4 linked regions of the Homo sapiens genome follow. The protein of the gene in region 3 interacts with the protein of the main gene of each other region in a biochemical or structural test. Each region holds a gene or a part of one and is shown on either strand. Other genes may lie near its edges.

Region 1 (7,036 bases), on a different chromosome or scaffold from region 3:
TATTTTGTAAAAATGATGTTTAAGAATTTATCTTTGAGGTGCGCTATAATCATTTGTTTCAACCCTGTGACTTTGTTTCTAAAAACTTCTTTGGTTAATTTTTTTTTTTATTTTAAAGCAATTATAATCAAGCACAAATTCTAAATTATTTTAAAAAATCATTTCCTAGTAGCCAACACAATCAAAACAAAAGTGAAAAAAGTATACAAGAAATATTTTTTTTTAAAAAAAGAATGTGAGGGTGAAACTTTAACAATTACAAAGTTAGAAAGTATCTCTGTACTACTCATTTAAAAAATATTTAGGAAAGCTCTTCTTTACCATTTTGTTGGCCCAGATACACATCTTATCATAGATAAGCTATTAGAATTCTAGAATCACATTTTTTTTTTTCCTAAACACAAGCTATTGCTTAAGGGAAACTGACTTGGACAGCTTTTCAAAAATATGAAAGCTGAATTTTTCCCCAGGTAAAAATGGAAACAAAAATCTTTTATACCTCACTCTACTAAGTACTATTTTAGCTTAGTACAAAAAAATCTTCTTTAATCCTGGTTTAGCTTTTAATATTATATCACACATTAAAATTCATAAAGTAGTTCATTCCAGGCAAAACAAACTACTGTTCAGCTCTTCTCCGCAAATAGCACAGGAGGTAAAATAAATGCAGTTGCTTTCAGAATAGCTTTTATCAAGGTAGGGTGTACTACTCCATTATTAAGGCGGCGCCGGGGAAGTAGTTAAGAATTGGAGCTTCTACTACTTACCCTCCCATGTGGGGATAGGGTGCAGCACTAGAGTCTGCTTTTTATTTCACTAAAATTGTGCCGCAGGACACACATTTTCCATAAAAACTCTATTTTGCTTCTTCATGGATTGCTGTATGCATTGAATCATGCTTTTAGATTTTACACGAAATGAACTCTATTTCAGCCTTGATTGGTGAACATCCTACTCTGATGCATGAAGAATTGCCTGCAAGCACACTGCTTTTACACAAGCAAAATTAAAGTTATATGTAGTTTTAATAATTGTGATAATAAACACTGACATTTATTAGTTGTTTATTATGTGCTGGACATTGTATTAATGTATATTAACTTCTTAACTTGCCTAACAGCCCGGAGGAGGTATTATGATTGTCCCATTTTAAAATTGAGAAAACTCCGTTAAAACAAACAGGTTAAACAATTTGTTGGTGGAGCAATGCTGAGATCTAAACTTAACTAGAAACCCAAAGTTATTTAGAGTTCATGACATTACCTGCACCTTCTTTACTTGAAAAAATTCTTAATTTTTAGAGCAGGCTGGACTTGTTTTTTGGTGGCCCTTTGATAAATCTAGCTCATTAATGTCTAATTTTTTAATAGCTATTGATTTTTGATTAAAATCCAATCTAAATTTATTTTTCAGGGTATAAAAATTATATTTTCTTATTAATGAAAATAAGAAATGTCCTCTTTTATGGATGCTTATTAGTGATGGAAAATATTTCCCACTCTCAAATTTTAATATATTAACACTGTCTTTAGCACCATGGTTTCATATTTTTAGATATTTCTTTCCTTCCAGGAACAGTATTATTTTCCAAATCTAGCCTTTAAAAGTCTTCCAGCTTTTAAAAGACGACAATTAATGGGATGCATTTTATAACCACATAAGCAACATCTTAAAATGATCTTCAAGGGATTCATAAGAAATAAAACTTTTACCAAGTGTTAAGTTCCTGCCTGTAACTGAACCTGAAATCAAGATGAACCTATGTTTCATTATATCGTAGAGGGATTTCTTGTAAAGAGACAAAATAGTGCAACTACCAGATTAATCATATACTGTTTATATTAACTTCATAAATTTTCTAAAGCATTGTTATGAAATAGCATACCTTTAGTAATTCTTTAGGTAATTACATAAAGAGATGTAAAAAATGAAGAATTACATAAAGAGATGTAAAAAATGAAGAAAAAAAGACTTTTGTGTAATTCATGTAAAAGCTGTAACTCAGTAATTATATGCTTTCAAACAGTCTTCATGGAAACAAACTGCTAAATTAATTTAACTCCAAAAGTCACACACCATAAAATGCACAAATCAAATTTTAAAAAGTATACCCTTACGGTAGAAATCATCACTTAAAATTCTGTAAAATATACAATTCTCAGATAATAATCATGAATTATTATTGTTCATAAAAATTCCTCTAATAAACTCATCAGGAAAATCTGCAAAGCTTATAGTGAAAAGAAACCTTAAGACCAAGGAAGCTGGGAGGACTGGGTTCTCCCAGATATTTTCATGAGACCAAAGTTTAAAAGGGGCTGTTCTCCCCACAATCCCAGAAATGCCATTGTCTAGTTTTCCCAACTGGATAATTTGTCAAACAAGTTATTTCATTAGGACAATGCTTTAGCACATGCTCCTCTTCCCATTCTAACAAGAAAACCTCCCATCCTCTATGACAAACAAAAAGATCTCCAAGTTTCACTTTTCCCTTTCTAAAATAAGTTTGCTTTTATTCTGAGGAGGTGGCTTGAAGTAGAGGAAGGAGCAAGAGACTTAGCAGAGGATTTGAAAACTCTGACTCAACCTTAAACTTGGTTTTCTCATTTTTCTTCTAGGGAAAGGTTGGTATGAGGATTCAATGAATTAATGTATTCAGCTGCTTTCAGAATAGCTTTTATCAAGTTAGGGTGTGAATCATTATCAGGTGCAAGATATTCTTATTTGTTGAATTAGAGCATGTAAGTTGTGAAAATGTTTGCAGCAACCAGGTCTGGCCCAGAGCCTATAGCCCAGGCAGAGGATGAAGCACAGGGCATAACTGTCCCTACTGGAGCACATGGGATACCTCTGCAGGGAGGCATCTCACCTGGACTGGGCCACCAAGGAGCTCTGGTGTTTCCTGAGGCTAGGTGTCCCCAGGTGGGGTCTGACTAGCCAGGAAGTCCTTTCTTGAAGATGACTTAGAATTCAAGTCCTTCAATAGTTTAGGTCCTTGTTATGGTATGTCCCAAGGGCACTCCAAAATCATCTTCTGCATGTTTTACACTCTATAAAGAGGTGGAAGAGAATCCAGTTTCCCAGGCCTTAATGGGGGCTGGGTTTTCTGTGAACCACTGAGGGCCTCTGCTTTTAACATGTGGTTCTTTAGAAAGAAATCAGGTTTCAGGTGCAACCCAAACCCAAGATTTGTCTCAAAATATGTTTCAAATCTCCTCATTTTGGGGGAAATGAAATGTATACTGATTTCACATGGACTCCTCTTTGGCAAAATGTAAAATTTAAAAAGACAAAATTTTGCAGTCTGTGTTATCTGTGGTTTTCTCCATTTTATCCTTTATTTTAACTCATTTTTAATATGCATACTGGTTCCAGTTTAAGCATCATTTCATTATTTCAACTGCTACAAGACAGCACTAATTCAAGTGCTCTATAACGTGTTTTTCCAAATCTAAAGTACTAATTTTGCATTGATAATACCTTTAATACCTTAAGATTTCTTAAAATTTAATTCATTTAATCATGGTTAAAGGGAAGAATGTGAACAAACTGGTAGTGATCTCCATTATAATAATATTAATAATTTAAAGATTTATATTGCAGCAGCAAAATAAAATTACACACACATACACATATCAGTTAGTCATTTTGGAGTTTGGTTAGATGGCCAGTAATACTGCAGTAATAGAAATGTTTTATTTGAAAGAGTTTCACTAAGAATCTACAGTATGTATATACTGTATATTTTCATCATTGGCTGAATACCCTAGCTATGGGCTTGGTCTCAGCTCCTCTTCAGAACAAACAAATACAGCTAAGGGTGGCACAACCAGTTAACCAATAATTCAGGCAAAAATAAATTAAACATATATTCTATCCCAACTTATCAGCAGATAAAGCCTTTAAGCATACATACAGGAAAGTTATCCTATAGTATCTTAACAGCATATGAAAAGAAATATCACTTAATAAGAATTGGTATAACTTTAGCTCAAGAAAAAGCTTGATGAGTAAGGACACCCAAATCACATTTGGAAAATAAATAAAACCAGAGTCCTAGAAAAATTAGAAAACAAAAGCTGTATTAAGGAACCACAAAGTCAAATATCTGGCTAGATGTTTTTTTTTTTTTTTAAAGCAGTTCAATGTTGAAGTTCATATTGGTCTTAAGTAAGCCATTCTTTTATTAGTATTGCAGATTAAGTGATAAGTAAAGTAATTCTCTGCTCAGAGCCCTGTCAGTGGTGACTTCAGGAGCAAAGTTAACTAATAAAAGTGTGTGTATTAACACTAAACACTACAGAAAAAGTACCAAACCAAATTATTTTATTTCATTTCGTATATTTTTTCTTTTTTATCATTCCTAGAAGTCATAGTTTATCTTTTCTCTTTAACCATACTTAGAAGTCATATTTTTTATACATAAAGAGTTCCTCATTCTTTATCTTAGGAAATATTTTATAGAAGCATTTAGAGATCAAATTCAATAACTTTGTGTGCGTGGGCAGGTGGGTGTGTACATACGTATATAGATGCCATGCTTTTCTCCTAAAGAAGCATGACTTTTTTATTCACAATTATAGCAATGATTTCCTTATAGTCTGTTCCTATAGACATCAAGACCAGATTGATTTTCATTAAATAAACTAGTGAAAATGGATTTTGTGACATTTCTAAAAAGTAATAGTTTCAGAACCTTATGATAAGCAGTTTATTTAGCTACTCAACAAGTGGCTAAATATTTCTTATTTATGCAGTATCCGTAGTACTTTCACTCTTTAGTGTTGAATGAGTTTTTTCTAGATTTCTATACATGAAAATGTATAACCACTTTCTACCATTGATGAGAATGAAGTAAAATCGAGATACAATTTCACTATGAGATTGTCATATGAATATTTCGACTTTTTCTTCCATGTTCAATTTTTATCCAATTTTAACTGACCTTATTTTTAAGAGCTGTAAATGTCACAAGTTAAACATGTAAGAAAACACATTTGCAGCCGGGCGCGGTGGCTCAGGCCTGTAATCCCAGCACTTTGGGAGGCCGAGGTGGGAGGATCATGAGGTCAGGAGATGGAGACCATCCTGACTAACACGGTGAAACCCCGTCTCTACTAAAAACACAAAAAAATTAGCTGGGCGTGGTGGCAGATGCCTGTAGTCTCAGCTACTTGGGAGGCTGAGGCAGGAGAATGGCGTGAACCCGGGAGGCAGAGCTTGCAGTGAGTGAAGATCGTGCCACTGCACTCCAGCCTGGGTGACAGAGCGGCACTCCATCTCAAAAGAAAAAAAAAAAAAGATAATATATTTGCTTGTGGTTTTTGAGTCTAATACACTAACTAGCAAACTTTTATCTAAGGGTTTGTAATGCAAATTGATTTACTGAATTATAACAGTTATGAGGTTACTTTTAAAACTTAGTTTAAAAAACAATACAGATTCACATACCCAAAGTTACCCGGAAGGCAACTTTCTTTCCTAAAAAGTCCAAAAATTTTAAGAAAGAGAAAACATGCCCGTATCTTGGAGTATGGATAGAATTCCTTATCAGCCCCATTTAAAGCTGCCTTCAAGGATTTTATTAAACTTAATTATGAAAGATTACAAATGAGATGGTGTGTAATTGGTACCAGCTGCAGTTCGTACTGGAAAGTATAAATACAAATGAAATTATTTATTTTTATTTATTTACTATTCAAATGGCGATTCTGAAACCAGTTGGGAAAAAACTGACTTTATTCTTTTTCTATTGAGTTTAAAATACTTTACTTAATAACAACAGTAGAGACAAATATCCCATTTAAAGACTACTTTCACCCCCAAATAACCCAAAGAATGAAGGAACACAAAGCAATTTTCTTCCCTCTATCTAATTAGGAGCTTATTGTTTTTATATCAGAATTAATGATTTGGGACCAAATTCTCCTCAAGCAACTATACGAATTTAAAAACATATAAATCTATGTATCTATCTATCTAATTTCTTATTGAGATTCTTCCTCAAGCATTAAAAAAAAGCTAAACAAAGAAGGGCAAGGAGGAAAAGGAGACCGCACCTGGGGAGGACGGCTGGGTGGTGTGCTGATGAGGGGGGCAGGACCCATGGCCGAGGCAGCATTCAAGCTCCTTTCCCTTTCGTCCTGGTATATTCGGTCTCTTTCAGCTTCCGGTAACTGCAAGAAATTCTGCATAGCCCGAAGGTTTACCAGCAAAGACTGGGATGCAGTCTTGGGGTCCTCTTCCTTTCGGAGGATTTCTGAAAGCAAGCCCTGCAAGAAATGAAAGGCACAGGGTGAGCCTGCTGCCTTGCTTTGCCTGGCCAGCAGTGATCCTTCCCTTTTCTTCTCCACTCTGTTTAGAAAATGAACAGTCAGAGGCATTAATTCTGCATAGGAATATATTAGTTACAACTGAAGTGGTAGAGAAGAGAGCCTCAATTGTATTCTTAATTTTATTAAGCATCTGCTTTACATATAACATAAACTGAAACTGCCTAATTGGTCTCCTTCCTTTGAGTAGCTTAACTTGCCATGAAATCTTTCACAGAGAGACGATCCAGGGAAGTTAAGAATAAACGAAATCCTTATAATGCAACAGCACTGAACTGTATAGTTCCCAAGCTGCCTAGACAAAGGCAGTGTAATGCCTACAGCCCAATATGTAAAGATACAAAGCCATTTCTAGAGAAGTAGAACTTTCAAAGAAAATACCAGAAAATGAATTTTAACATATTAGAACAAAGGTTATTACTAAAGCATCACCTAAGGTTTATGCTGTATTTTCACAGGCAATGTTTAAAATTATTCCTTAAACTCTGACTTATCAAAGTACATGACACTACGTGACCCTTTCAATTTACCATTTTCAGAGAACCTCACTGATTATCACAAATGATTCTAAATACTATCTTGCTGTATTATACCACTGGGTAACAGGTTTAAATTTTGAACTTTAAAAACCATAGACAAGATTTGAAATATATTAACTAATTTTCAACATTGCGAAAGTCCATCACAGCATGCCAAGGAAAAGA
Region 2 (7,036 bases), on a different chromosome or scaffold from region 3:
CGTGAGCCACCACGCCCAGCTGTTTTTTGTTGTTGTTGTTTTTTACTAAATTAAGAATAAACATGTTTTACTTTTTGCTCATTTTGACTGTTTTCACAGTTGTTAATCAGACTAATCTTTATAAAGCAGTTTATTGTCCCCTTTGGAGAAAATACAGCTAAAAATCACCAGTATCCTCATATAGGTAACTGATTCATTGGTCTGATGTTGTAGCCCTCTTGGTTTCTCACCCCGTCCCTCACGTCTGTGTTCTATTTGTAACTTCATTTACAATATATTATGATTTTTTTCCATATCTGACTACATTTCTCCATTTTAAACTTTTATAAGTAATTTATAAAAGGAAACAAAGATTACCACGTGGAATTGAGAATAAAAGTTTATCTTTCTACTGTTAAGTATGCTAAGGTGGTAAAGCAATGGCTGAATGCTCTGAAATTACTAAGACAACATTAAAGGCTGATTCTAAAATGTTTTTGTTTAGATTGACATCTACTTAAACTATATACCAAACTGGGCTTGGGACGTAGGCTTTAGAAAGTGTAGGTAATAGTGCATTCTTGCTAAGTTTTGGATTTTTGCCAGTTTTGGATTCTATGGGCTTGTCTTAAGGTACTTCTGTGAACTTTTCAGCTTTTTGTAAAACTAGTGTAAATATTCTACCTAGTTGAGAATTAAGGTTTATTGTGCTAAAAATTAAATGGTGGTTGATTCTTGGCAGACATGTTTGATCACCTTTGCAAGGTTAAGGCATCTTTTGGAGTGTGTTTCTTGGAATCTACAAATTCTGAGTCTGTGACTAATTGATGACTTGGCAATTAAATCAGGTCTCAGCTGAAAACTTAAATATTCTGGAATATGTACCATCCATGATACACATAAATTACCCATCTCAATCTAGACAAAAGCCAGTTGAGGCTGGAAACAGTCCAGTTTTACAGCTCAACAACTGGTGGAGCCGGGGTCTGAATCCAAGTGTAGATGACTCTAGAATGCTTCCACTTTTCTGACTTAATTAAGTAGAGGGGCCTGTCCATAGATCAGTGGTTTTCAGAGTGTGCTGTAAGGCTCTGTACAGATCTTTTGGAGTTTGGTAAACAGTGAAATATCTTTTGCTTGAGAAATAATCAGTCATCTTTTTGTTGTATACATTTTGGTTCTGTTTGGAAGAGTTTCTCTATATGAAATTTTCTTCTCTAGGGAAATTTAAGACCTGTCGAATGAAAAAATATTAGAAAATAAAAATATAGACTGGGCACAGTGGCTCAGCACTTTGGGAGGCCAAGGCAGGCTGATGGCTTTAGCCCAGGAGTTCGAGACCAGCCTGGGCAACATGGGGACTCCCTATCTTTACAAAGAAAATTAACGAGAGTGGTGGTGCCAGCCTGTGGTCTTAGCTACTGGGGAGATTGAGGTGGGAGGATTGCTCGAGCCCAGAAGACCGAGGCTGCGGTGAGTGGAGATTGTGCCACTGCACTCAGACCTGGGCAACAGAGTGAGACCCTGTCTCAAAAAAAAGGAAAAAAAGTAGTTGTGGGGCTGACTGTGTCTATTTTCAATTATATTTCTTTTCCTAATGCTGTTTTGTGTAGCCTGTATTGTAAAACGAGGTTGAGGTGATTGAACACACTTAATAGAGTGAGGAAGTGGTTAGAGTTAAAATTTCCTGCTGAAAGTGGGTAATCTGCAATTCCTTGCATTGGGTTCACTCCTCACTGCCAACTCTTGCTGCATTTTGAGGCTGCCCTAAGCATGATGTAATGACAGGTTAAACCTCTGCACGCACTAGCTGATGCAATGCAAATCTGAGGCGCAGGACTTTATTGGGGCAAGGGTAGTGCTTGTTTAAAAACAAAACAAGCTACTCTGCGTTTAATGAGGCCATTTAAGATGGCTTTCCCAGAGTGGGAAGAGAGTATAATCTCTTAGGAGGTTTAAGTAGGAGTTTAATGTGGCAGAAGTGTGCTTACTACTTTTCCTGCAAAGTCTTTTCACAGTGGGTAAGGAGAGTTTAAAATATAGTGCTGATAGGAGTAGAAATGAAGTGAGCTAGAATTGAGGAAATATGGTAGTTGATGCCCGGTAAATAGCCGTTGAATGAATTAGGGAGAATGTTTTCACTCTAAAAATTTAGAGTTCGCACGATAAACCTGGAGCGTAGCGCCAGTGTGGCCACGCATTTCCCAGATACGCTGTAGCTCTTAGATCGAAACCATAAGAAACTGCCGATATTCGACTGTTCTGACCTACCGAAAATAGCGTGGTTCCACCTAATTTTAAACTGGTGGAAATGCTGAGGAAGGTTCGATGTCGCTGGGGTGGGATGGGGTCAACGGCGGGGTGGCGGGGGCTCCCCCACGCCCCCGGCCTTTGGCTGGGGGGCGGGGCTTGCGGGCACGGCCCCACCCTTGCGCGAGCAAGACGGGCATCGCCCTGTGCGCCGCGCGCCCTGAACTGGCCCTGGCGCCCCGGGTTGGAGTAGGCGTTCCCAACGCAGGCCCAGCCCCGGCCGAGGCTCCAAATGGCTCTCCCGGCAGGCAGGCTCCTGCAGTAACTCTTGAGCTGGCTCAGGGAGCGCACTTCCTTCTCAGCCAGCGCGTCGCCCCCTGCATCCGTGGCCTCCACTGGAGCTGGGCAGGACCCTACCCAGTGAATCTGGAGAAAACAAACTTGGGAGACAGACGAAAGCTTAGGGCACATTGGAGGACAGCGCAGCTGTGGCTCCCATTTTTGGAGATGCAGTCGAATTTGAGCTCACAGGGAGGTGTGGTTGCCTCCTGGGGATGGAAAGGCTTCCTTTCTCCACCTCTGTAACTGGTGCTTCTGAGAAGTAAATGGTATTTGGATCCTGACCTCAGACGCGAATTTGGGTCTTCTGTGCTTAGGAGCAGAAAGAGCCCAGGAGGGGCCTGTTCCTTTACTTCTTGGGGGAAACGCAATGCGTGGCCTGACTTCTCATGACGGGAAAGGCTACTCCACCTTCTCTGTACTCCTGGAGGGGAGTCTTGTTCACATGTTTACCAGCGGCCAGGACAAGGAAGAGAAAAGGTATTGACATTAAGAGGATGGTTTGCTGAGGCTGTGAAACTTGAACGCTATTAGTCAGTGGAACCTGCCTGGCTTAGGGAATGGCTGCAGCAGAATCGAGACGTTTCCGAGGTTCTCAGTCATGTTTCATTTGGGCTGCTGTTCTTTTTTCTGTTTAAATCAAACTTCAGGTTACGTCATGACTTCTGCAGGGCTGTCCTTGGTTCCTACTGCAGGGCGCCTGTGTGGTTGGGATTCCTTTTCTGTTTCAAGATGGAGCTGGGTTCCACCCTTGGAGCTTTGAGAGGCTTTAGCAGTTGCTGTCCTGTAATACCTCCGTTCCCAAGAAATACCGTTCACATTTCGCTTCTTTTTCACACTTTGAATAGGAGTTAAAATGTGCTTTCTGTAGTGTTTGGAAAATGGCAAAGATATATTGTAATGTGAGCCCGAACTGTTGTTGATAAATGTATAACTATTGCTAGGTCAAGAAATTGTGAACAACAGTGTTTTGCTTGGTCCGTAGCTATATTGTGTTAAATATAAACTGAGTTTACTGCCCTTGGATGTGATTCTTTGGTTTGATTTAGTAATTTGAAAGGCATTGGTTGACTAGACTGTTTTTTGCCCAAGGAACCACTTTGTAATTGTTACGCTGCTTACTGAAGTAAACTGGACCATGCAGTAGGCATACAGCATACAGCCAGGGTGTTTTGGCAATGCTGAGCCCACTGTTTTACAAGTGACATAAAATGGATGTCATATGTACAAAGAATCTACTGAGAGGGAAACTGGATTACAGGAGAGCTCCCTTATAGTCCTTTGTCAGGGGACAGAATACCTGGGTCACACTGGGCTTCAGATTGAGAGTTGATTCATGTTCTGAGTCCATATGATGAGACACATTACGATGGAATTGTCACTTTTGTTGCCTCTGGAACTTTAAAATACCCGTTTAGTGACGTGGAATTAATCTTTATTTTTTCCGTCACCCTCAGCCCTCATTTAAGCTATCAGTTGGTAACCACTTGGGTAATCTAAACCTAAGTTGCATTTATTTGGTCACATTGGTAACCAACATTGCTTCTTAAAAGTTCCTTGCAACAGAATGACTATAATTGAGATAAAACATTAATTTTGAGGCTTTAATTTTGTAATATGGATTAGTGGCCGGGCGCAGTGGCTCATGCCTGTAATCCCAGCACTTTGGGAGGCCGAGGCGGGTGGATCACGAGGTCAGGAGTTCGAGACCAGCCATGGTGAAACCCCGTCTCTACTAAAAATACAAAAATTAGTCGGGCATGGTGGCGGGCCCCTGTAATCCCAGCTACTTGGGAGGCTGAGGCAGGAGAATTGCTTGAACCTGGGAGGCAGAGGTTGCAGTGAGCCGAGATCGCGCCATTGCACTCCAGCCTGGGCAACGAGCAAAACTCCATCTCAAAAAAAAAAAAAAAAAAAAAAAAAAAAGATTATGGCTTAGTAGAGTTACTAGGAGTGCAGTCTTAGGACATTGACTGATCTTTTTTTTCACCCCCAAGACAAATAGTGGCCTGCCATTTTCCAGCCCAGGTAGCTTCCTGGGAAAAGTTGCTTGTTTTATCTTTGACTCAGCCTGGCTAGTTACATTGTCGATTATTTCTTCCAGATGATATTTACCTGTTAAATAATGTTTATTACTCTGCTGATGAATGTTTTCAGCAACGCTGGAGAACCCTAGGCTGCAAGGGGTTCTTCACCTGTTGACTCCATCCCCCACCCCCAGTATGGCATATATCTCTGCCGTGCTATCATCTTTATTCTTTCCTTTTTCATTGTCTCTTCCTGACTGTCCTCCTTTGTTCATTATGTCTGACACATATTGTGGATTGAAAGTAGAACAGAAAGATATACTTTCTCTACCAGACTAAAAAGTTTTGAGATGGCCCTCCATTTCTCCCATGCCTCACTTCACCTTAGTTGTGTTTTTATTTATTTTTATATTTTCGCCACCTTCACTAGCGAGTACATCCCCTCACTCTTGAGGTGGGCACTGATCAGTAGGAAATAAGATTAATACCTGGCTGGTGATAATTTGGGGGGAAGACTTAATTAGATAGAGATGGATAATGGGATGGCAGCAGACCTTTCCCCTTGTGACCCTTCCCCTCATTTCCAAAATACACCTCTAGAGTAGATAATTGCTTACCATTAAGAAGAGTTAATGGAAGGTGATACTCTGATTCTTTGGCATTGGAACTACATTCAATCCGCGGTATCCTCGGATTAGTTCTAGGACCCCCTTCTCCATACCAAAACCTGAGGATGCTCAAGTCCCTGATAGAAAATGGTGTCATATTTGTATGTGCATATTCTCTTGTATAATTTAAGTGATCTCTGGATTACTTAATACAATGTAAACAATATGTAAATAGTTGTTATAGACTGTATTTTAAAAATTTTGTATTCTTTATAAATTTTTCTGAATATTTTCAATCCATGGCTGGTGAAGTCCTCGGATGCAGACCGTGTGGATACAGAGTGCCGATTTTATACAGGAGTTCACCTGTAACTCCCTGTACCTATCAACAGCTGACTCCAAATTAGAAAGAAATAGAGTAAGGGAGCCTCAGGGAGAGTCCTAGCAAAACGGATTCGATTAAACTTCAGTTCCTTGTATAGTTTCTTTAGTTGTTTATGGTCCATTTTCTATTTTAGCATTTATTATTCTATGTAGTCTATCCAAAGACGATTAAGGGAGTTCCACATGTTTTCCGGAACATTTTGAAAAGAGAGCTTATCCAGTGTACAGATCCTAATAAAGTGCACATTCAGTGTAATTTTATTTTTTTAATATCTTTTTTAATCCTATTTTTCTTCCTCTTTTGCTCAGTAAATTTTGTATGAAACTTTAAAAGGACTTATGGCATGTAAACATTATTTATAAAGTAAGTCATGGTTATAATTATTTTTCTCCTGCCTCCTTATGTATTTATTTCAGAAATGAGCCGTCAGACTGCTACAGCATTACCTACCGGTACCTCGAAGTGTCCACCATCCCAGAGGGTGCCTGCCCTGACTGGCACAACTGCATCCAACAATGACTTGGCGAGTCTTTTTGAGTGTCCAGTCTGCTTTGACTATGTGTTACCGCCCATTCTTCAATGTCAGAGTGGCCATCTTGTTTGTAGCAACTGTCGCCCAAAGCTCACATGTTGTCCAACTTGCCGGGGCCCTTTGGGATCCATTCGCAACTTGGCTATGGAGAAAGTGGCTAATTCAGTACTTTTCCCCTGTAAATATGCGTCTTCTGGATGTGAAATAACTCTGCCACACACAGAAAAAGCAGACCATGAAGAGCTCTGTGAGTTTAGGCCTTATTCCTGTCCGTGCCCTGGTGCTTCCTGTAAATGGCAAGGCTCTCTGGATGCTGTAATGCCCCATCTGATGCATCAGCATAAGTCCATTACAACCCTACAGGGAGAGGATATAGTTTTTCTTGCTACAGACATTAATCTTCCTGGTGCTGTTGACTGGGTGATGATGCAGTCCTGTTTTGGCTTTCACTTCATGTTAGTCTTAGAGAAACAGGAAAAATACGATGGTCACCAGCAGTTCTTCGCAATCGTACAGCTGATAGGAACACGCAAGCAAGCTGAAAATTTTGCTTACCGACTTGAGCTAAATGGTCATAGGCGACGATTGACTTGGGAAGCGACTCCTCGATCTATTCATGAAGGAATTGCAACAGCCATTATGAATAGCGACTGTCTAGTCTTTGACACCAGCATTGCACAGCTTTTTGCAGAAAATGGCAATTTAGGCATCAATGTAACTATTTCCATGTGTTGAAATGGCAATCAAACATTTTCTGGCCAGTGTTTAAAACTTCAGTTTCACAGAAAATAAGGCACCCATCTGTCTGCCAACCTAAAACTCTTTCGGTAGGTGGAAGCTAGACACATGAAGGTAAATAAAAAGAAAGGCTGTTAAATACAGGAAACAGTTGCATGTAGTAACACTAATATATTTA
Region 3 (4,069 bases):
CCTTACCAGTACACCTCCCTACTCCCTGCCCCTGCAGAAAGCCCGATTAGCTCAAAATGGAATAAGGGTCTCAGGAGTGCAGGGATGGGTTGTCCCTTTCTGTTCACTGGTTTACTTCCTGGTCTACAGGAATAGTCAACTGCACGCTCAGGGAAGACCTTAGGGGAGCTCCAGTCCCCAAAAAACTCACTGTTTTATAATGGAACACTAAAGCCAAACTGAAAAATTAAATGTGATTTATTGCAGTGGATGATCTCTTCAGGGAAGCAGATATCGAACCCAATGGCAAAGTGAAGTATGATGAATTTATCCACAAGATCACCCTTCCTGGACGGGACTATTGAAGGAGGAGAATGGGAGAGCCTCCCCTGGGCCTGAAAACTTGGAGCAATTAATTTTTTTTAAAAAGTGTTCTTTTCACTTGGGAGAGATGGCAAACACAGTGGCAAGACAACATTACCCAACTATAGAAGAGAGGCTAACTAGCAACAATAATAGATGATTTCAGCCATGGTATGAGTAGATCTTTAATAAAAGATTTGTATTGATTTTATTAACTACCGTGAGTCCGGCCCTTTCAAGCATGGAAGGAGCCTGCGGTTTGGAGTCTGGCCTGGGTTCCAGTCCTGGCTCTGCTGCTTCCCACTGTGACTTTGGGCAAATCATTTCACTCCTCAAAGCCCCCCCACACAAGCTGGATTCCCACTTCTTACCTCATGGAGCCTGTTGAGGAAGGATTGAGCTGATGACTTAAGGGCAATCTACCAAGAGACTTATTCTGTATTTGGGGGCTAGAACCATCTTCCATATTTCCAAGATTTTCCAAGATGAAGCCAGTGCTAGCTGAGAAGCAGCAATGAACAGAAAGCTGTAACACTTATGACAACAATTCTTGCAGTGCCAGAGGCCCATTTACAAATTCTCATTTCCATCTCAACAGATATAGTGACATAGCTCAGGCTATTCATTCATAAACACAGAGTGTAGAGTGAAAACACTAGAGTGAAAACACATGCTACAATGAGGCAGCATCAGCTGAGAGCAGGAAGAGCGATCTACTTTACACCCCACACCAAAGGAAACCAGATGTGAGCTGCTAAATTGACTGGCCTTGCAGAGCTCAAGAAGGGGGCTTCCAATGCTGTGAGAATTCCGAGCTGTTCCCTGGGCTCTGTTAACAGGCAGAGAGGTTCCGGGATGGTCTGCTCAAGTGGCCCACACTGGTCATTGCCTTAAGCCACCTCCCCAGGACTTACGGAGAGAAATAAGGGGATGTAACCAGCAATGGCCAGGGTACAACAGCCCTGGAAAACAGTAGTAGGAGCACTAGGCTTTCTGGGAGTCCATCCAGCTGGAGTGGCTTTGAGTGAGTTACACAGCTAGAAGGTGCCAGGTTGGTGCTGCCAGAGATTCAGAGGTGCCATACACTTGTCAAATCTGGATCATTCGTAGTGCCAGCACAGTCCTAAAAGGGCTGGAGTACCACACCAACACAGGTAGGGGTGCAGGGCTTCAAGTACAAAGATTTGCATCCATGTATGTATCAAAAGTGGGTTCTCTGGGCTGTGGCTTTGTCTAGTAGTACCACAGTGGCTAAAGTAGAAGAAAACCAAATCAAATGGGATGTGTCTTTTGGGAGGATGTACAAGACACAAATCTTTCACTAGGCACCGGGCACAGGGAAAACTGCAGGGAACAAGAGTTGTAGTGTTAGTGCAACTGTCTCAACGATGCTGTGTGGCTTCAGACCCAAACAAGGCCCTGAGGAAGGAGACTCTCATTTCCCCAAGCATAACTGCAAGGAGAGGAGGAATTCCTAGGAGCCAAAGAGTTTTGTGGGGTGAGGGTAAATAAATGGCCCAAATGCCAACTAGGTGAAGTTGTGACCATCTGGCTGGGAAGCCCAGGTCCACACAGTGTAGGAGCAGATGTTTTGTGGGGTCTGAGGTTTACGAGATTTGGCTGCCTTAAGAATACAAAAACAGAAATGCAGAATTTCTGGGGCTGCTCCTAGGACCAGAACAAGTGAAGGGTCCTGGTGCTTAAACTTCATTACCTTCATGGTAAATCCACCAGAGGGCCGGTTAGATGCTGGCCCCGCCGAGAGAACTGCTGTCACTTTCAGGCAAAGCTCAAAGGTCCTAGGCCCACAGTTCTTTTGAGCTCCAGTCATGGACATTAGGAAGTAAATCCTGCACAGCCAACCTGGAATACCAAAGATTAGATGGGAGATAGATACCAATGATTTAGATGGCACAGGAAGAGCAAGTTCTGGATATAATAAATGAGGGTACTTTCCGTCAAAGCTTTTCTATGTCTATATTTATCACTGAATAGTCCCAGTATGGTTTTAAAGCAAGTTTTATGAATCTCATTTGCCTAACAGGAATCTGAAATATAACTTGCCAAAAACACACAGTTGGTGTGGAATGGTCATTAGAACCTGGGGCTCCTCTTCACGGACTCCCTGCTCATTAAGGGATTCAGTGGTCCAGAGTCTAAGATCCTATTAAGTGTTTGATTCAAACCTCTACCCGAGGAAGGGCTGTTACCTTACTCCTGGTCCTGGTTTCAAGCTCATTCCTGAAATTCCAGCTGGTTTCTCTAGCACCTAGTGTTGTTTACAAGAAGGCCACGGTGCTCTTAGCATTCAAACTGCAGATACTAAACAGATGCTGTGATTTATTAAAGAGTTAGCCATATTTCAACAAGAAAGGGAAATGATGGCTATATTCATTACTTACCTCAAAGCATGCTGCAAGAAAATTAGTTAGTTACTTGTCATGCTTTGAAATCTCTGGATGAAAGGTGCTTTGGAAGCACAAACCATTATCACTTGTCTCATAGGGATTGTCCCCTTGAACATCCAGCAGTGTTATTTTACAGAAGACAAATTAACTGAAGGCTTTTCTTTTATTACATCTAAAGAGCTCTACATAAACAGGTAACATTCAATAGGTAAACAATTTTTTTCCAATGCATGTAATAAATATTTTCACTTGGTACTTTTATACAAACTGACATTGTCTACTATACATTTTTAAAAGCCATTTTACTGGTTTGGCATGCGGTATGGAAATTCTAAGAGAGAAAGTTTTAAGGCAATGAATCACAGATTTAAGTTCATGGAATTTATGGTAACTTTATCTGTTTATGTACATTTTCCCCTTTGTTAAACAATTAACAGCAGCACACTCTGGGACCACCAGCTATTTTCCCTCTCTTTCTGAAATCTAAGCTTTGTATTTAATTAAAAAACAGAATTCAACATCTATTGATAAAACAAAATTCTTACTAAAATAATTTCAAATGTGCTTTAAAAAGTCCTGAAGATCTTGAAAGTTTTATGTGTTTAAAATTGAAATTGTCTAAAAAAATGCTCTTTCCACATTAATTTAGTTAGGATATATTTTCACTCCATTTCAGACACTTGACTCAAAGGAAAATCTGCCAAAGAATCCGATTTTTCAGAGCTTACGTGAATCTTTCCTCAGTAAAGATACAGAATTGTGATCATGTCTAAATAATTAGTAAAGCAATTTTAATGCTCAAAATAGTCAACCAAGTATGGCATGGTTCTGGTTCAGATTTTTTTTTTTTAAGATGTATCCAATAACACTCACGAAGTAATTAAAAGCCACTTTAACCCTGCTAGTCAAATAGCTATTTTATCAAAGATGTGTGCATACAGATGTATATATATATACACACACACACACACAGTACTGTACAGAAACAAACATATGCATACCTACTATGAACGGCCAAGGCAAGGGGGATGATGGCAACTTGACTAGATTCTGAGAACTGCTATTTGTCCACAGATAGCATGTCAATGTTGGGATGGGTTGGGGAGTGAGCGTAGGCTAAGAAAAAAAGAGATGAAGTGACTATGTGCTTTTCTTTAAACTTAGTAGTTACAGACATAGTACAGGACTCTACTAATAATTAGTAGAGATCATGAAAGTCTGATTGATATTGACCATGAGACCAACAGAGTGACAACTATTACTTAATGCAACATTTTGGAAAGTCAACAACTGATGGAAACAAACTCCTCACAGGGTAG
Region 4 (7,036 bases), on a different chromosome or scaffold from region 3:
ACTTTGAGGATGATTACACTGTTTTAAGAAAACCTGTTAAGAATGCTAAAAAGAATATTGTGGTGGAAAAATACAGGTTACAAGGTTTATGTTTCTATTTGCACTATATGTGTAATTAAATAGTTTGGTTCAAGTAAAGCAAATGATTTATACAAAGAGGGATAATTTTTTTCTTTTTTATCTCCTTAGGATAGCAGTGAGATTCACTTCAAAGTGAAAATGACAACACATCTCAAGAAACTCAAAGAATCATACTGTCAAAGACAGGTTCGTCCATTTTGGTATTAAGTACAATGCTTTGTCGTTAATTTTTTTTTTTTTATAGAAGATTGTCAGAAGAAAAATCCTGTTTTATTATTTTCACCATTAGCAACTCAAGGAAAACACTCTATCATTTCTTGTACCCTGCTTAACTGCTTTTTTTGTCTTGTGGCCCATTTTAAAGTTTGAATTCGTAAGATGGGAACTAGTTTGAAAAGTAACTCAGAATTGTAAAAGCGAGCTCAAATGAATGTTTCTGTCTTGATGGCTTACCAGTATATATAGCAAAAAAGGCAAGTAATTTTTTGGTGATTACTATGGATTGTTTTTGTACTTCTAATCATGAGTGTTTAGCCATATGTTAAATTTAAGTAGTAGTATTATTAGTATATTATCTCTCTTTTTTTTTTTTTTTGAGATGGAGTTTGCTCTTGCTGCCCAGGCTGGAGTGCAGTGGCACGATCTCTGCTCACTGCAACCTCCGCCTCCCAAGTTCAAGTGATTCTCCTGCCTCAGCCTCCCGAGTAGCTGGGATTACAGGCATGCACTACCACGCCCAGCTAATTTTGTATTTTTAGTAGAGATGGGGTTTCTCCATGTTGGTCAGGCTGGTCTCGAACTCCCGACCTCAGGTGATCTGCCCACCTCGGCCTCCCAAAGTGCTGGGATTACAGGCGTGAGCCACCAGGCCTGGCCTTATAAAATAGGTTTTGAAAATAAATGTAATTGGAATTAATATGAGACAACCAAGATATAGTTTAAGTGAAATTATGATTTAATAAGCAAGAAATATATGTTTAATCAGTCTTAAATTAAATTATAGGCTGGGTGCAGTGGCTCATGCCTGTAATCCCAGCACTTTGGGAGGCTGAGGCGGGCGGATCACCTGAGGGCAGGAGTTCAAGACCAGCCTGGCCAACATGGCAAAACCTTGTCTCTACTAAAAGTACAAAAATTAGCCAGGCATGGTGGCGCATGCCTGTAATTCCCAGCTAGTCGGGAGGCTGAGGCAGGAGAATCACTTGAATCTGGGAGGCAGAGGTTGCAGTGAGCTGAGATCATGCCACTGCACTTCAGCCTGGGTGACAGAGCAAGACTCCATCTCAAAAAAAAAAAAGAAAAAAGAAAAAAAAGAAAAAAAATTGAATTATATTACATAATATTAACTCAGGTATTGTAAATTTTATTTTCATTTATTTATTTATTTCTTTGAGATGGAGTCTTCACTCTGTCGCCCAGGCTGGAATGCAGTGGTGTGATCTCAGGTCACTGCAACCTGTGACTCCCTGGTTCAAGCGATTCTCCTGCCTCAGTCTCCCGAGTAGCTGGGATTACAGGCATGCACCACCACGCCCGGCTAATTTTTGTATTTTTAGTAGTGGCGGGGTTTCACTATGTTGGTCAGGCTGGTCTCGAACTCCTGACCTTGTGATCCGCCCGCCTTGGCCTCCCAAAGTGCTGGGATTACAGGCATAAGCCACCGTGCCCGGCCTGTAGATTTCATTTTTAGAAGGTTTGCTTTTAACAGTTTAAATTTGTAACTCACATTAAAAAAAACTTATTATAAGAAAGAGAAACTAGGTGTTAGGATAAGTAAAACAATAAGCATTTTTGTCTCTTCTGTTTTTGTAGATTTTAATTGTTTAACTTAATAAAATCACATTAATTGGGGTTCAACTACTTCACATTTGTAATAACTTTGGGTGTTAAAATTGAGATGAAATTCATCAGGGGAAAGAAACATTTATTGAAATCTCAATTATGTGTACTGTGCCATAGGTATTTAAGATACATTATTGGCCAGGCACAGTGGCTCACGCCTCTAATCCCAGCACTTTGGGAGGCTGAGGCAGGCGGATCATGAGGTCAGGAGTTCGAGACCAGCCTGACCAACATGGTGAAACCCCTGTCTCTACTAAAAATACAAAAATTAGCTAGGCATGGTGGTGCACGCCTGTAATCCCAGCTACTCGGGAGGCAGAGGCAGAAGAATCGTTTGAACCCAGGAGGCGGAGGTTGCAATGAGCCGAGATCACGCCATTGCACTCCAGCCTGGGTGGCAGAGTGGGACACTGTCTCAAAAAAAAAAAAAAAAAAAGATTCATCGTCATTTAATTTTCATAACTCTGAAGAAAATTCATATAGTCTCTACGCCCCCCATCTGTAGGCCAGGGAATTGATTTTTTTTTTTTTTTTTTTTTTGAGACAGAGTCTCACTCTGTCGCCTAGGCTGGAGTGCAGTGGTGCCGTCTTAGCTCACTGCAACCTCCACCTCCTGGACTCAAGTGATTCCCAATGCCTCAGTCTCCCGAGTAGCTGGGATTACAGGCACCTGCCACCAGGCCTGGCTAATTTTTGTATTTTTTTTTGTATTTGTATTTGTATTTTTTTTTTTAGACAGGGTGTTCCTCTGTTGCCCAGGTTGGAGTGCAGTGACACGACCTTGGCTCACTGCAACCTCCACCTCCCGGGTTCAAGTGATTCTCCTGTCTCAGCCTCCCGAGTAGCTGGGATTACAGGCGCGTGCCACCTCGCCAGGCTAATTTTTGTATTTTTGGTAGAGATGGGGTTTCACCATGTTGGCCAGGCTGGTCTTGAACTCCTGACCTCTAGTGACCCACCCGCCTCGGCCTCCCAAAGTGCTGGGGTTACAGGCTGAATCACTGCGCCTGCCCCGTAATTTTTGTATTTTTAGTAGAGATGGAGTTTCATTATGTTGGCCAGGCTGGTCTCAAACTCCTGACCTCAAGTGAGCCGTCTCTCCCCTTTCAGCTGTTTTTGTTGAAGAGTGATTAGAAAAATGTATACTAATATATTTTGTAATATTTATGGTGCTATCTGTGCCATCCAGGTTTATGGTAGATGAGCTAGCTAGCCATTTGCGCTTTACCAGATTTTATGATAATGTTGGCCAGGCTGGTCTCAAACTCCTGACCTCAAGTGAGCCGTCTCCCCTTTCAGCTATTTTTGTTGAAGAGTGATTAGAAAAATGTATACTAATATATTTTGTAATATTGCGCTATCTATGCCATCCAGGTTTATGGTAGATTAGCTAGCTAGCCATTTGTGCTTTACCAAATTTTATGATGTAATCTGTTTAAAACCAATTTCGCCAGTATAGTTGGAAGCTAGTGAGGGTGCACGTCCAGTTTCTGATCTGATCTTTTATTCTAGCTTACAGATTTAGGGCAAAGTGAATCGAGTAGTGGTCAAGAGCATAGGCTTAGAAACAGGTTTGGGCTTAAATTCTTGGCTAGCTCCAAGCCTTAGGTTCCCTAGCTGTAACATGAAGATAAGGTGGTAATACCTACCTTCCAGGGTTGTTGTGTTTAACACTTATGATTATGTATGTAAAGAATTGGTACAGGGAGGGCCTTGCAAATAGTTGCTACTCAGTACAGTATATAGTATTTATGATTGAATTAGCTTGTCTAATTTTATTTTCTATGTAGTGTTCTAAGGCTTTCATGCTTGCTTTTTGTGCATCAAAGTTACCATTATGTTTTCTAATATTTGTGTGTGTATGTATGCATTATTATTATCTTTACCTTTTTAGGGTGTTCCAATGAATTCACTCAGGTTTCTCTTTGAGGGTCAGAGAATTGCTGATAATCATACTCCAAAAGAAGTGAGTATACTTTTCTCCTGAGTCAAGAAAAAATTTAAATTCTCCTTTGAGCAGTTTGGTTCACTGGTGTTAAAACTGCCCTTTTCTTGAATATTCTCTGATTTAAATGGCATATCATTTGTTGGAGAGAAGAAATAATGTTTTGGGTTGAACTTCCCCTATAGTGCCTTTAAAAGTGCCAATAAAAAGGGTGGTAGAAACAAAATGAGTACTGAAATTGTCATAGGTCACATGCTACATCCTTTTTGAAGATAGACAAATGTTCCTCAAATTTGGTAAATTTCTGGTATACTTTCATGGTGATGGTAACATTAATGGCTGGATTTTCATTTTTGACCTATTTTGAGAATGTTAATACAGAAGCATAGTGTATATTAATATATTTGGCTCTGTCATCTTGTTTTACCCTATTTTTTTATGCTTCTCTGTCTTCATTTGATTTTTTTATTCTATGAGCAGTTTGCTTTGCTTTTATATTCCACCCATCTTCCCTCTATAGAGATATCTCAAAGTAGTGTGTGTGTGTGTGTATGTGTGTGTGTATCTATATACATAGATTCCCTTCATACACAGAGTAACATTACTGATATTTCTGATAGTGGGAACAATATAGGGTTATTAACTTTTTATTTTGAAAATATTTCAAACTTACTGAATTGTGAGAATAGTGTAATACTCTCCTGTATAACTATTCCTTAGATTCACCAATTAAAATTGCACAGCATGTGGGCCAGGCACGGTGGCTCATACTTGTAATCCTAGCACTTTGGGAGGCCAAAGTGGGTGGATTGCTTGAGTCCTGGAGTTCAAGACCAGCCTGGGCAACATGACGAAAACCCGTCTCTACTAAAAATAAAAAAATTTGGCCAGGTGCAGTGGCTTATGCCTGTAATCCCAGCACTTTGGGAGGCCGAGGTGGGCGGATCACGAGGTCAGGAGTTCGAGACCAGCCTGGCCAGTATGGTGAAACCCCGTCTCTACTAAAAATACAAAAATTAGCCGGGCGTGGTGGCATGTGCCTGTAGTCCCAGCTACTCGGGAGTCTGAGGCAGAAGAATCGCTTGAACCCGGGAGGCAGAGGTTGCAGTGAGCCGAGATTACGCCACTGCACTCCAGCCTGGGCAACAGAGCGAGACTCTGTCTCAAAAAAAAAGAAAAAAAGAATTAACTAGGCTTAGTGGTGCATGTTTGTAGTCCCAGCTACTTGGGGGGCTGAGGTGGAAGGATCACTTGAGCCCAGGAGGTCGAGGCTGCAGTGAGCCCTGGTCATGTCACTGTGCTCCAGCCTAGGTGACAGAGTGAGAACCTGTCTCAAAAATAAAGTAAATAAAATAAAATAACATTGTGCAGCATTTGATAGCTGGGATTGGTGGTGCACGCCTATAGTCCTAGCTGCTTGGGAGGCTGAAGCGGGAGGATCACTTGAGTGAGCCCAAAAGTTCGAGACGAGCCTGGATAACAGAGCGAGGAGTCCCCTGTCTCAAAAAAAAAAAAATATTATGTTTTTCTAGTATGACTACTAGAATGCAGTCATAGCTCACTGCAGCCACAAATGCCTGGGCTCTAGCAATCCTATCACTATCAGCCTCCTGAATAGCTGGGATTACAGGCATGTGCCACCATGCTCTGCTTTTAAATTTTTTGTAGAGATGGAGTCTCCCTATGTGCCCAGGCTTTGATCACTTAGTTTAAGTGTTGTCTCTTTTTTTTTTTTTTTTTTTTTACTTTGTAGTTAACTGTTTTTCCTGTTACAATTAAGTAATTTGAGGGGACACACTTTGAAACTATGCGAATATCCCCTTTCTCATCAAATATTCCCCTTAGGTTTAGTGTCCACCACCTTCTTGAACACTTCCTTACTTTCTGGCACAGTAAGAAGTTCCAAACTCATCTTTTACTTTCCTTTAACTTGGCATAATCTCTGGGACCATACAGTAGATATCTAATACATTTTACTGACACATGCCTTACACATTCCTTGTAATTAAGAGATTATTTTTTCAGAGGAATGTTGGTGCAGTGGGAGACAGTAGGTCTTTAGGGAGTGACCCTCCTGTGCTGTTGTTCACTTGTCTCTGTTAATGTACTTCTTGAAGTTTGTAGCTTTATATTCTTTATAGCTCAAGGACTCATGCTGTCTTCCTGTTTTGAAGGTTTCTAATAACACTTGGAATTTTATTCCTTGCAGTATTTACCATGCTATATGGGCAATTAAAATTGTTTTAAAAGCATCTTTTTTTTTTTTTTTTTGAGATGGAGTTTTGCTCTTGTTGCCCAGGCTGGAGTGCAATGGCACAATCTTGGCTCACCGCAACCTCTGCCTCCCGGGTTCAAGCGATTCTCCTGCCTCAGCCTCCTGAGTAGCTGGGATTACAGGCATGCACCACCACGCCTGGCTAATTTTGTATTTTTAGTAGAGACGGGGTTTCACCATGTTGGTCAGGCTGGTCTCGAACTCCCGACCTCAGGTGATCTGCCGCCCCCCCAGCCTCCTAAAGTGCTGAGATTACAGGTGTGACCCACTGCACCTGGCCTAAAAGCATGTTTAATAATTATTTAAATATTCAAATATGTTCCACAACCAAGATAGCTTAACACTACTAGAGCCATTCTGATCACTTTAAAATCCTAAATTCACATGTGTTATGTTTAGATTTCTTAACATACTTTATTTTCATATTTAAAATTCTGCACAAAAATGTTACCTATAAAATTTAAAACTTTTTGGTCAGGCACAGTGGCCCACGCCTGCAATCCTAGCACTTTGGGAGGCTGAGGCGGGCTGGATCACTGCAGGTCAGGAGTTGAGACCAGCCTGGGCAACATGGCGAAACCTCATCTCTACTAAAAATAGAAAAAGTAGCCAGGTATGGTAGCGCACGCTTGTAGTGCTAGCTACTTGGGAGGCTGAGCTGGGAGGATTGGTTGAGCCCAGGATGCTGAGGTTGCAGTGAGCTGAGGTTGAGCCCAGGAGGCTGAGGTTGCAGTGAGCTGAGATTGTGCCACTGTACTCCAGCCTGGGCAATATAATGAGACCCTGTCTCAAAAAACAAAAACAAACAAACACCAAATTAGATATATCCTATTAAACTATCACTTAAACTATTAAATACATGTTTCATTAGATTTAAAAGTTCTTTAACATGG

What was found.
Region 1: the proteins of PIAS1 (region 3) and SATB1 form a complex in vitro, tested with the Homo sapiens proteins (2 studies listed by BioGRID, with this or other methods).
Region 2: the proteins of PIAS1 (region 3) and SIAH1 form a complex in vitro, tested with the Homo sapiens proteins (one study listed by BioGRID).
Region 4: the proteins of PIAS1 (region 3) and SUMO1 form a complex in vitro, tested with the Homo sapiens proteins (6 studies listed by BioGRID and IntAct, with this or other methods).

Annotation. Positions count from the first base shown.
Region 1 is NC_000003.12:18,380,340-18,387,375, forward strand, and holds part of SATB1 (DNA-binding protein SATB1), read right to left. Parts: intron 6,273-7,036; coding exon 6,060-6,272; intron 1-6,059. UniProt on the Homo sapiens protein: Crucial silencing factor contributing to the initiation of X inactivation mediated by Xist RNA that occurs during embryogenesis and in lymphoma.
Region 2 is NC_000016.10:48,361,399-48,368,434, reverse strand, and holds part of SIAH1 (E3 ubiquitin-protein ligase SIAH1), read left to right. Parts: intron 1-2,547; exon of another isoform or gene 2,548-2,957; coding exon of another isoform or gene 2,958-3,048; intron 3,049-5,431; exon of another isoform or gene 5,432-6,004; coding exon of another isoform or gene 6,005-6,006; coding exon 6,007-6,855; coding exon of another isoform or gene 6,856-6,958; 3' UTR 6,959-7,036. Other genes in the region: LONP2 (lon protease homolog 2, peroxisomal), read right to left, coding at 6,839-6,958. UniProt on the Homo sapiens protein: E3 ubiquitin-protein ligase that mediates ubiquitination and subsequent proteasomal degradation of target proteins.
Region 3 is NC_000015.10:68,190,290-68,194,358, reverse strand, and holds the end of PIAS1 (E3 SUMO-protein ligase PIAS1), read right to left. Parts: 3' UTR 512-4,069; downstream 1-511. Other genes in the region: CALML4 (calmodulin-like protein 4), read left to right, coding at 247-344. UniProt on the Homo sapiens protein: Functions as an E3-type small ubiquitin-like modifier (SUMO) ligase, stabilizing the interaction between UBE2I and the substrate, and as a SUMO-tethering factor. Catalyzes sumoylation of various proteins, such as CEBPB, MRE11, MTA1, PTK2 and PML.
Region 4 is NC_000002.12:202,207,588-202,214,623, reverse strand, and holds part of SUMO1 (small ubiquitin-related modifier 1 isoform a precursor), read left to right. Parts: intron 1-189; coding exon 190-267; intron 268-3,817; coding exon 3,818-3,889; intron 3,890-6,621; coding exon of another isoform or gene 6,622-6,756; intron 6,757-7,036. UniProt on the Homo sapiens protein: Ubiquitin-like protein that can be covalently attached to proteins as a monomer or a lysine-linked polymer.